Homo sapiens: one gene and its partners. The protein of the gene in region 1 purifies or fractionates together with the protein of each later gene. This does not show direct contact. Each region holds a gene or a part of one and is shown on either strand. Other genes may lie near its edges.

Region 1 (3,652 bases):
CCATGTTTGCCAACTTGAGGATCCAATAACATCTTAAAATTTATAGTTAGCAAATATCAAGAGACTTATAAAACTACACATCCACAATCAAGAGACTTGGCTGATAACTGATAAACAGTGGCGTTGATTTTGTATACCTTAGGTTTTGCAGGTGGGGTCCTGGGCCAGGAGGGTGCTGCTGTGGAGGTGGTGTAGCGGAGGGTGGAGCACTAAAGAAGGCACGGAAGCCTGGTGCTGGGGGAAGCATCTGCCCAACTCGCCCTTGTAGCAACTTGGGATTCATGGCAGCAAGTGGACTACCAACAAATCCAGGGACCCGTGCAAACTGGCTGGGAGACATCCGTCCAGGCTGTAGCTACAAAGAGGAAGAAGATCTTAGATTTAGACAATCAGCAAGTCCCCTTGCTTTTGTCTACAGAAAAGTGAATACGGTTTTCCATCAATAACTTTGTTTGAAAAAGTAAAGGCAAAAATAAAAGTAGTGATTAACAGCAAAAAAAGGGGCTATTATCTAATGAACTTTAGGAAAGTAGGAGAGTTCTTTATGGGTAGGGCTAATCACAGGCTTACCTGTGCTCCTCCAAGAAGCTGTGCTCTCTGGAGGGGGCTGAGAACAGGAGGAACACTAGGAGGAAAAGGGTGACCCAGGAGGGAAGAGTTCTAAGGTAAAAAAAAAAAAAAAAAAAAGAATATGCTATAAAACAGGGGGTACATCATAATAAGGAAACTCAGCAGAAATGCAGTATAAACTTGGATATAAAAACTCTCAAATTACAGAGTCAAGCTCTGGAATAGAAAAAAAGAGTAATGCTAGAAATTATAAAAACACCATGACCATGTGACATGAAAAAGAAGCAGTAGAACATGGGACTGAAATGGTAGGAACCAGATGATCACAATGAGTTTAGATTTTTAAAGGTAAGAAAAGAGCTGATGTAAGAAACAACTGTCCTCTGACCTGGGGACAATTAGATCCAGCAATTTAAGTAAGGAGATTATAAAAAATAGGTATAATTTAGGAGATGTCAGCAAATCTAAATACTGGCAGTGATCTTACAAATAGTGATCAGAAAATACATACTGCACATTTTTGTTAGGCTTAAAGTGACATACCGGGACACTGCAGAGCTGGTTTGGAGACATCCTCTCACCATAGGGAGCAGGATAACGAGGTGGCATTGGGGGCCGAACATGGACAGGCTTCGGACACAGAATCTATCAGGACAAACATATATACAACTACACTCAATGAAATCAGTTTTTCTTCCACCTACACTCCCTCCCCTCAAGTACTGGTAGAGACACGAACTCAATGCAAAGCCCTACTTCTAAGCAAATTGCTATGGCTACAGGTTCAAATACAGAACCTTGGGCCACTTTCTCTCACAAATCAAGTAAAGTGTCAGCATTAACTGAGGAAGATTTAGCTAATTCTCCAGTTATCCCCACCCTTCCATGCTGTCTGAGGGAGATACCAGCAGATATTCTGACTTGCAAATTCTCTCCAAGAGGATATATTTTGGTAGCACTGAGGGAGAAGGAATGATAAGAAAGCTGGAGGATTAACTAAGTCCTATTCTGAAGCCCCTGTGATATGGCCGCCATGCTCAGCACTTTTGTGATACATTGTGACTCCACCATTTCATAGGATTTGAGCCTAACTAGGCCATACCAACACCACCCTCCCCCCATACCTTCCAAATTGGCCTTCCTTTTCAGCTGCTGGTTTCAGGTGGAGGAAAGTCTATGGAACAGGACTGCACAGGCTCTAGGGAAAGCAGGGATATCTTAAAGGTAAAAAGGGATGTGGACAATGCTGTGTGTTCCCACTCCCCCCGGCTTTCAGTTATCTCTCTGACAATGTTTTGGGCAGCCAGCAAAACACTTCAAAAAGGATATATGTGCTAAATGTGGCTAACTACCCTTTTTTCTCCCCCAATTAAAAGGCAGCAGCAATAGCAGCAGCAAAGGGTATCAGGGAATGTGTCTCTTATTTGTACTAATTTCTCCTCTAACTAGCTATTTTTCTTTCTAATCTAATGCCTACCCAAAATTTCCACCCTCCACCCAACATCACCAATTTTCCAAATAATTTTGCCCAGATTCCCAATATCCTGGGCTGTGTGCTTGTTAATGAGAGGTACCTGTTGGGTGAAGCTGGGTACAGCCATCTGTTTAGGTGGGGTGCCTATGGGGACAGCTCTAACAGGAGGACTGCCAATGATAGGTGAAGTTGACCGCCTTGGTAATGCTCGTTCAGAAAGGTCCCGATCATCTTCTGGACCCTGGGGGGGCCTCTGAGGCAAAGCATATTCTAATACAGACACTGTAGGCATTTCCTAATTGAGGAAGTGGTAAAATAAAATAGAAATTAACTAACTTGGTATGTTTTAGTAATCTCTACAGATGCCAAAAATACCTTAAGAAATTTTTTTAACTTTTTATTTATTTTTAATTCACATATAGTAAAATTCACTTTTTGGTATATGGTTCTCTGAGTTTGGTAAGCGGCTCATGCCTGAAATCCCAGCGCCTTGGGAGGGTGAGGTGGGAGGATCACTTGAAGCCAGGAGTTTGAGACTAGCCTGGGCAACACAGCGAGACTTCATCTATACAAAAATAAAAAAACTAAGCCAGGCATGGTGGCATGCACCTGTAGTCTCAGCTACTCAAGAGGCCGAGGTGGGAGGATCACTTGAGCCCGGAAGTTCAAGGTTACAGAGAGCTATGACTGTACCAGTGCACTCTAGCCTGGTTGACACAGCAAGACCTGGTCTCAAAAAAAAAAAAAAGAAAGAAAGAGAGAGCAAGAACAGTTGCATCACTCCCCAGAAATTCCATTGTATTGTTCCTTTGTAGTTAACGCCTCCTGCCATGTCCAACCACTAGTAAACACTGATGACCTCTCTGTCCCTATAGTTTTGCATAGAAATGAGTTTTTTTTTTTTTTGAGACAGAGTCTCACTCTGTTGCCCAGGCTGGAGTGCAGTGGCGCAATCTTGCCTTACTACAACTTCCGCCCTGCCTCCCAGGTTCAAGTGATTCTCCTGCCTCAGCCTCCTGAGTAGCTGGGATTACAGGTGCCCACCACCACGCCTGGTTAATTTTTGTATTTTTAGTAAGGATGGGGTTTCACCATGTTGGCCAGGCTGGTCTTGAACTCCTCACCTCAAGTGATCCACCTGTCTCAGCCTCTCAAAGTGCTGGGATTACACGCGTGAGCCACCACGCCTGGCTCAGATATGACTTTTTAAGTGATTCAAATCACAATCATACACTAACAAATTTAAATTCCAATGGCTCCCTTGCAACCTTTACCCTGGAGGCTAAAGAAAGGCATAGCTAAGTGCTGGATGCAGTAGTCGACATAATTCTAGCAAATGAAAGACCTATAAACCCCTTCAGTAAGGAAAGGATGACGACAGGAACTTAAAATTTTTGGATATTATAAATTTTATGTAAAGAGAAAATATTTAATACCTGAGCAAGCAGTGGTCCTCGGATTCGCCTCAGAACTTCAGATCCATCCCAGATACTGGAATTCAGACTTCCTGGTTGGGGCTAACAAAAAAGGAAAACATACAGAGTCTGAAATGTTGTATACTCTCTGGGTGACTTATCTGCTGCTGGGGAACAAGGTTCCAAAAGAGCC
Region 2 (4,117 bases), on another chromosome or scaffold:
CGTTCTCAGCAACTGTTATTTCTCTCTGATCATTAATTATATGTAAAATAATATACATTCAGTTATTAAGAAATAAACTGCTTTCTTAATACATACTGTGCATTATAATTGGAGAAATAGAATATCATGTGTTCTTATGGTCAAAAACTATATTTGCAAGAAACAAGCAAGTCTAATTTCATTTTACAACTTCTATTGATTTCCTTTTAAAAGTCCTAGCTATTGTAAGGATTCACTTGAAGAACAAAATTATATGGAATAAATACTGTGGGCAAGGCGTTGTGCCAGACTTGTGCATAGAGCTACCCTCTCCTGCCCTCCAGGAAGTGACAGTCTAGTAAGAGAGATATATAAATATAAATAGCATATCATTAAGTTCACTTAATAAAACTTTGTTTTAAAGTGTGATAGGGAAAAAATATAAGCCAAGAAGCGTGAATGTGAAAACGAAATAAACATTCTGTAATTTGTGTGATGCTGCCATACTGCAGTCCCAGAATGCAGAATCCAGTGGTCATGAAAGACAGCGATACTTAACATTTCCTGAGATCTTAAAATCCAAAAAGTATTAAATGTTTAAGGTTTTTCTGTAAGTTTTCATCCAGAAGACTTAAATACAAAGTAACGGGTTAATACATTCAAATAAGTGGAAAACTCTTACATTTAAAACTGATAATTTCACTTAAGTTGATAGAACTCTCCTTTGCTGTGCGGTTGAAAGTGTGATGGGGAAAAATATGATAAACCCGGATGCAAGAATGTCAAAACTAAACATTAAATGATTTCGTATCCAAGGTCTTATGTTAACAGTTGCGGGGGGCGGGTACATGGGAAATTTTTTTGAACAATTTGGAAAAGAACGTTTTTAAACGTATGTATTAAGAAACGTAAGTTTAAATTCCTCAGAGAAAAAAAATTATTGACAAAACAACAAACTAAGCCAAGTAAATCACCAGATCTTTCGAAATCTGAATGAAAAATACTGAGATTAGCAACCCTAGGAGACAAGCGGAACAAAAATCAGTGTTCGATACCCTTCCCACACCTTCGTACGGTTTTCATGCCACTTCCAAATCCACTTAGAAAGCACAACTCTATCATGGGGCATTTTCGCCCCTAAGTTGCAACACACCAGCAAACCTCCGCAGATTCCCTGACCGCCACTGGACAGTACCGCGGCCCCGGCCGCGCGAGGCCCGGAGGGCTAAGCCCCGCCCCTCGGACGGCCTCGGATCCTGCCGCTCTAGGCCCGCCGGGCGCTCTCTATGGTCGGCCGGGCGGTGTGTTGTCATCCGCGGAGCGACGACCGGAGGCTGCGGCGGAGCCCCGGCGGGGCGTTTGGTTTCGGTTTGGCCCTGACTGGGATTAGTGTTGACGATCGAAATGGGAGTCCCCAAGTTTTACAGATGGATCTCAGAGCGGTATCCCTGTCTCAGCGAAGTGGTGAAAGAGCATCAGGTGGGTGAGCGAGGGGCAACGGCTCAGAAAGCCGAGGACCCGGGGCTCCGCGGCCCTCTCCACCTTAGAGCTGGGGCTTTCGAGCCACCTCTTTCCCCTCGTCGTCTGGACGATTAGTGGCATTAGGGAGGGGGACGGAAGGTTTGAGGACGCCCGGATGAGCCGAAAGGGGCTAAGGACGCAGGTTGCCTGTGTGTGGACAGAGCCGCTGGGTTCACGGCTTCTCTGACAGCTCTTGCTTCTGCTGGTCCTTCCGCGACTCCGAAATGAAGTCCTGGGAAAGAACGCTTTTACTGTTCTCCGGTTTCCTCCCGGGGAGCTGCAAGTTGCCTTTTTCCTTACAGAGGCTGCGAAGCTGGAGTGGGTGTCCTCGTAGGTTCCCCCATCCCACCCAGAGCGGCAGACCCACTTACAGACGATAACAGCCGCTTCCGCACGCAGTCACCTTGTTTACTTTCCCTGATCTAGAGCGCGGCCCACCCGGCCCCCGGAGCCTAGACTTTCCGACGTGGCTGATGGTCATATTGGTGATGCCTTTTGTTACTTTCTGTTATTTCAAAAGCAGCACCAATCCCCTGTTGCCAAAACAAAAAACTCTTGGGCCAGCTGGGGAGTGGGGCGTAGGACCTTTTATTTGGAGGCCTCACTGTGTGACAGAGGGGGTTGGGAAACGAATTGATAGAACATTAATACTACTAATAATATTTGGCATGTACTGACCCCAGGACAACGTTAATGTGTAGATTCCGAAAACGTAGTTTATATATTGGAACTGTGGAAAGAGAGGAGAAAGCAGTCGTCTATTAGGTAAACTAGACTTTGGGTGATACTTTGGTGTTTGTCACATTTAATGAATTTGATCTCTTTTCTGATGCTTTACAGAAAAAAAGCTTGAAATTTGTGTAGCTGATTGAATCAGTTGTGATGGGTAGTATTGTAAATAGCCTATTAAATTATGGTTTAATCGGCATTTACGAACATGAAGGTAGTTTACTTCTGGAAAGGAGTTTTTGTTGCTGGATTCCAATCAGATTTGGTAGATGAGAAATAGACTACAAAAAGTTTCCAAGGTTAGCTTATCTTGAATTTATTTGAAACATAGATTGAGTTAGGTTTAGAGAGGTATTTTTTTCCCCCGGGGAGGGCTAAAAAGGAAACCAGTACATTGCAGAAATGGAGACAACCAACTTTGGCTTTTCTTGCATCCTTCAGTCAGTACCTGCTATATATCAGTCACTTTATCTCTAAAGTGCAAAAATAATGCGATTGTTATTCGTGATGATTTAATACATAATTTGTTCAGTAATATTTTTATTCTGTAGTCTGTGGCACAGAATTTGGTTTGGTGAAAATATCTTAGATTCTCTCCATCCTGAGGAATTTTGTTACTGAAGAATGAAAATCTCTTTAATGCAGTTTTATGACATGGACACTAAGGATAGGTTTTGTGAAAGCTTTATATAGAAACTGGGAGGAGAATTATTTTTAAATTTCACTGTAAATAAATTTTAAAATTTGGTTCATTGTTGTGATACCTTTCAAAAATGTTTGATTAAAAAGAGACCAAAGGTTATCAGCTTCTCTGTTAAGTAGAACTTAAAGATGGTAATGCCTAAATAAGTCACAGGCATTCAAAAGCTAGTCCTGGGCGGGAAGGATAGGGAGAAGAAGTAAGTTACGGGAAGTCAGTGGTGTGGCCTCAGTAGCATAGGTTTTCAGTTTCTCTGAATCATCTTGTAAAAACAGAAAGAGAAACTAGAAACCAAAGTTTAAAATCCATAAAACAATTACAACAAACCATGTGACATGCTATCCCCATGAAACTCAAAACATAACTAGGTGAGGCAAACTATCAATAGTCTCTAGACACCGTTGATATTGCCATCTGTGCAAAAGCGAGAAGGAAGCAATGGGGCAACATCTGATGAACCTTAGAACAGAATTCCAGAATAGCCAGCGGTATCCACTAAAAGACTGTGCTGGCCAATTAGATAGCGGTAGCTGAAACAGAGGAGTTTTATTCACTCCATTATTGACTGGGTGAAGGTCTACCATAAGAAAGACCAAACAGGCAGGAGTAGTCTACCTCCTGTGAACACTCAAAACTGACTTGCCAAGGTGCCATTCTAGACCAGAGCCCTAAGGAAAAGGGAGTGGAATAAAGTCTTACGGAAATGTTATGCTGGAAGTGGAATAAAATTTTATGAAAGGGACAATAGAGACAAGAAGAGAAGGAGATAGACCATATAAAAGTGAGGCAAAGTCATAGAATCAAGAAATCTTAGAAAACAAACCACAAAGCAAACCACTGTATTTTTTAACACTACCCAGAAACAGCTTTGTGAACTTATATTCCCTGAACCTCTACTCATTCTAAAAGTTCAAGAAAATTAAATTCACATAAAAATGAGCTACAGAAAGGTATTGAGATCAAATTACATACAAAGTTATTATACGAGAAAAAGGGACAGAGTATCTCTCCAGACATAAAAACTTGCAATGAAAAAAATGCACACAAAATAGACCAAAATTATAACCAAAACTATTATCTATTTCACAATGAGTTAAAAGGCATTAAGAAAATGAGGTAAGACATGAAAGAACAACGTGTATCAATTATGAAAATGTGAGAATGAGATGACAGAGAAAGTTAGAAGTA
Region 3 (4,271 bases), on another chromosome or scaffold:
GGTGATTAGCTTGTCTCTCATACATTGGTGTTTGGAGAATTGTTTACTGAAACATTTGAAATGGTAATCCACAAATTGTTTAACTTTTTTATTATACCATCTGAGAATATGTTTGCATATTTGTGAAAACAATTGGAAACTGTCTCAGTTATGTTCATTTTGAGAATTACTATGTTTTGGTGGACACATTTGCTGGAATTTTGTGCAGATATTTTTAAAATATTTAAGTTTATGTGGTTACTATGAGATATTATTAAATAAATAAAACATGTTCGGAGTAATGTGTATAATACAAACTCATTTTTTGTAACAACAAACAGAAAGAGTTACATGTTGGTAAGTATATGTGTCTTTGATTGGTTATGGAAAAAATTATTAGGCATTTATTCCATACTTTTAACATCTTTTAACCTCCACAGATTTAGAATTGTTTTTCTGGAAGAAATTGTTAATCTTCTCTTTTATACATTTCATGTTGTTTTCCTCATTTTAATGCCTTCGTATTATATTTCTAAATATAATTTTCTTTTATAAAACATGCAAATTTTATACGAAGAAAAACAGCATAAGTAAACTTAAAGACTATTTATATACAATGTGGTTCCATTTAAAAGATAGATAATGGATGCCATTAATTCATAGAATATATAATACATTTCTTTATGTTAATACAGAAACAAAGCCTGATAGAAATATAGTCAAAGAACAGGCAATTCATAGGAGACAAAAATATATGGCCAATAATAATAATAAATATAGTTGACTTTAATATTAGGTCATCATATTTGCCACAATCAAAAAAGTCTCCAGAATTCTCAGTTTTAGAAAGGATTTGGTTAAATATCTACTGTCTATAAAATTGTACGTTTCTAAAGTATTTTATCTCTATCGTAATTTTAATGTTTGTAAGTTTTGACTTGTGTTTTATTTGTAGAATATATGGAAATAATTCTACATATCAATAAATTGGCTTGCTTGTAGTAAAAATGTTGCAAGCATATTAAATATCTTTCAACAGAATTTGAACATCTTTCAACAGTTAAAATTATACTGTAACACGATGCAATATTTTGAAGCCATTGAAATATTGAGACTGATCTATTTTTATATTAAAAATTATTAAGACATTTATAAGTGAATAAAAACAAATTGCCGAAGTGTATGCTAGGATGATCTAATTTATATTATAAACTCCAAATCTAAATTATTATATTATTATAAATACTATATATGTGTACATTTAAATAGAAATAAAAAGGTCTAGACAGAATTGATAACTATGTTTTCTTCTGTAAATAGGAGAAAGACTGAGGAATGGTAAAAGTTTAGCAGTAAGAAGAATTATGTCTATGTTGTTTGAATTATATACAGTTAGATTGTATTCATGTATTTATTCATGTATTATTTGTGTAAATAAATAAATAAATATAAAATTTCCAAGGAATATAGGAGTTTGTCAAGGGGCTATGAGGGAACAATGAGGCTGATTGATTAGTTTTGGAAGCCTAATAAAACAAGAGTAATAGCGGTAGACATCCCTGTACTTTTTGGGGGAGAAATATGCCTAAGATAATAGAAACATCTGGTCCACCTAACAGATAAATTATTTTGCATTCAAATACATTAGATACCAAAAAGATGCAGGTTATTGACATTGTATGCCTTTGATTTAATATTTATTAAGCACTCATCTAATAATTTTGCATTCTCTTTAACTTGCTTAATAGGGAAATTGGGGTGTTTTCTGCTCAACAGACATATCTGACCTGTATGATAATGGAATTTCTCATTATAAGTCAATAAACTTTTGTTCTTTCTGTATCTTTCAGTCTTATGATGTAATCAGCGCGATTTCACTTCCTGAATTTCGATGAATTCTAAGACATGGGCAAGATCGGGTTGTAAGACCTCTGAGATTTAAGGCCATGCCCTGGATCATGGTGAACTTACCAAAGCAAACAATGCCTGTGAGATGGTCCTGCAGCAGCCAACCAGTGAACTCTTTTGGTGACATCCTGTTCTTGTTGTATAACTTTATATTCCTATAAATCCATTAAGGCCCCAATAAAGTTTGTCTCTAAGCGCTGTGTTAGATCTATATGACTACATCTAGTAAATTGTGAATTTTAAGTAAATATTTTATAAGAACTCCTATGTAAAGCATTACTAAAATTAGTGTTGAAATATGACCTTCTTCCTACATTTATTCATTTATTTATGTCTATTTATTCATTTATTTTAGTGAAAAATATAAGGAAAGTAGAGGAAGGTTAAATCCAAAAAAGAATTGTTTCCAGTACACTTTCTTTAATTTGCTGTCAGTTTTTGCATGGAATCTACATCTTTTTATGCTAATCCTCATCCTAGTATTTTACATCTTAACTATTTTTTTCTGACTGAAATGGTTGATGTGCTTGTTTTTTGTAATTTTCTACTTTCCTTCTAAAATGCTTAGTATTGAACAAATAGAATATCCTAATTAAAAACAGTAATAAATATTATGGTGAAAAAATACAAGTAAAATGGGAAAACATTAGATAGCAGCTTTCAATATTTCATATAGTTCATAAATGTTTCAGGAATTACAAGGTTATAGAAAAAAATTTATAGACTATAATAATTTCCAGGGATATAAAAAAATAAAGCTTCTACCTTTGAATTGTAATAATAAAAGATAAACAGACTTGAAAGCATATATTATATCTGAAAATGTCAGATAAACTTGGCTTATAAATTAAAATATAAAATAATAATACAATTTGTTCAAATAAGTAATTAAAGCTTACATTGTAAAATGAATATTTAGAGAGATTGTGAAACCTGAGTATTTTACCCAATCCTCTGAAATTAGTCCCTAGCATCAGAATTAAAGAATCTGAAAAATCACAAATGGAGGTATGGTGACATTTATGTATATTCTAGAGTTATGTTATGCACACTTAATAAATTATAGACAGTTATTTTAAAGATTGTATAATATTACTAATCACACATTAGAGTTTTAAAACTTCTGAGCCAGGCTGAACATCACAAACAGTAAACACAGACTTCTTTAAAAGGACATCTGGTGAAAGGCATTTTATGCATCAGAAGGCACAGTATTATAAAGATGACAACACTCTTCAAAATAATCAAACTATTCAATGCAACCCTTATCAAAATTAAGGTTGCCTACTTTGAAGAAATTTATAACCTGATTCTAAAGTTCATATGAAAATGTAATGGACCCAGAATAGCCAAAACAATCTTGAAGTATACAAAGTTTGAAGAGTCACATTTCCAAATTTTAAAACTTATTACAAAGCTACAATAAACAAGTCTATGTGGTACTGGCATAGGATATAAATATTGATCAATGAAATAGAATCCAAAGTCCAGACATAAGCCCTCACAAAAGTTAATTTGCAGCCAATTAACTTCTGAGAAGGAGGCAAGACAAAAGGGGAAATAACTATTTTCAATAAATGGTACTGGGACAACTTGGTATCTACATGCAAAAAAAAAACAAAAAAACAAAAAACTTCCACCCCTACCTCATGCAAAATACAAAAATTAACTCAAAATAGGCCAAAGACTCAAATATAAGGGTTACACTATAAAACTCTTGGGAGGAAATATAGAATAAATTTTTGTGACCTTGAATTAAGTATTAGATTTTTAATTCTTACACCAAAGCACAAGTTAATAAAGGAAAAAAAAGATAAACTGGACATAATTAAAATTGAAAAAAAATTTGCTTCAGTGAACACAGTCAAGAAATTTGAAAGACAGCCACAGTGCAAGATTATTTTTGCAAATAATATGTCTCATAAATGACTTGTATCTAAAATATATAAGACCAGGCATGGTGGCTCATCCTGTAATCCCAGCACTTTGGGAGGCTGAGGCAGGGGGATCACTTGAGGTCAGGAGTTTGACACCAGCCTGGCCAACATGATGAAACCCCATCTTTACTAAAAATACACACACAAAAAAAATTAGCAGGGTGTGGTGGTGTATGCCTGTAATCTTAGCTACTCAGGAGGCTGAGGTGGGAGGATAGCTTGAACCTGGGAGGCAGAGGTTGCAGTGAGCCAAAATTGCACCAATGCACACTCCAGCCTAAGCAACAGGGCAAGACGCCATCTCAAAAAATAAAACAAAATAATAAAATAAAATAAACAGTAATTACCGCTAAATAATAAAACAAACAATAAACCAATTTTATAACGAAAGGATCTGAATAGATTCTTCTGTAAAGAAGACATACAAATCACAAATTACACATGAGA

The links.
Region 2: the proteins of PATL1 (region 1) and XRN1 purify together in Homo sapiens (co-immunoprecipitation; one large-scale study listed by IntAct). This does not show direct contact.
Region 3: the proteins of PATL1 (region 1) and NBDY purify together in Homo sapiens (co-immunoprecipitation; one study listed by IntAct). This does not show direct contact.

Annotation. Positions count from the first base shown.
Region 1 is NC_000011.10:59,655,386-59,659,037, forward strand, and holds part of PATL1 (protein PAT1 homolog 1), read right to left. Parts: intron 3,562-3,652; coding exon 3,481-3,561; intron 2,340-3,480; coding exon 2,145-2,339; intron 1,216-2,144; coding exon 1,114-1,215; intron 661-1,113; coding exon 571-660; intron 356-570; coding exon 138-355; intron 1-137. UniProt on the Homo sapiens protein: RNA-binding protein involved in deadenylation-dependent decapping of mRNAs, leading to the degradation of mRNAs. Acts as a scaffold protein that connects deadenylation and decapping machinery.
Region 2 is NC_000003.12:142,445,211-142,449,327, reverse strand, and holds the start of XRN1 (5'-3' exoribonuclease 1), read left to right. Parts: upstream 1-1,290; 5' UTR 1,291-1,383; coding exon 1,384-1,458; intron 1,459-4,117. UniProt on the Homo sapiens protein: Major 5'-3' exoribonuclease involved in mRNA decay. Required for the 5'-3'-processing of the G4 tetraplex-containing DNA and RNA substrates. The kinetic of hydrolysis is faster for G4 RNA tetraplex than for G4 DNA tetraplex and monomeric RNA tetraplex.
Region 3 is NC_000023.11:56,815,491-56,819,761, forward strand, and holds the end of NBDY (negative regulator of P-body association), read left to right. Parts: intron 1-1,829; 3' UTR 1,830-3,689; downstream 3,690-4,271. UniProt on the Homo sapiens protein: Promotes dispersal of P-body components and is likely to play a role in the mRNA decapping process.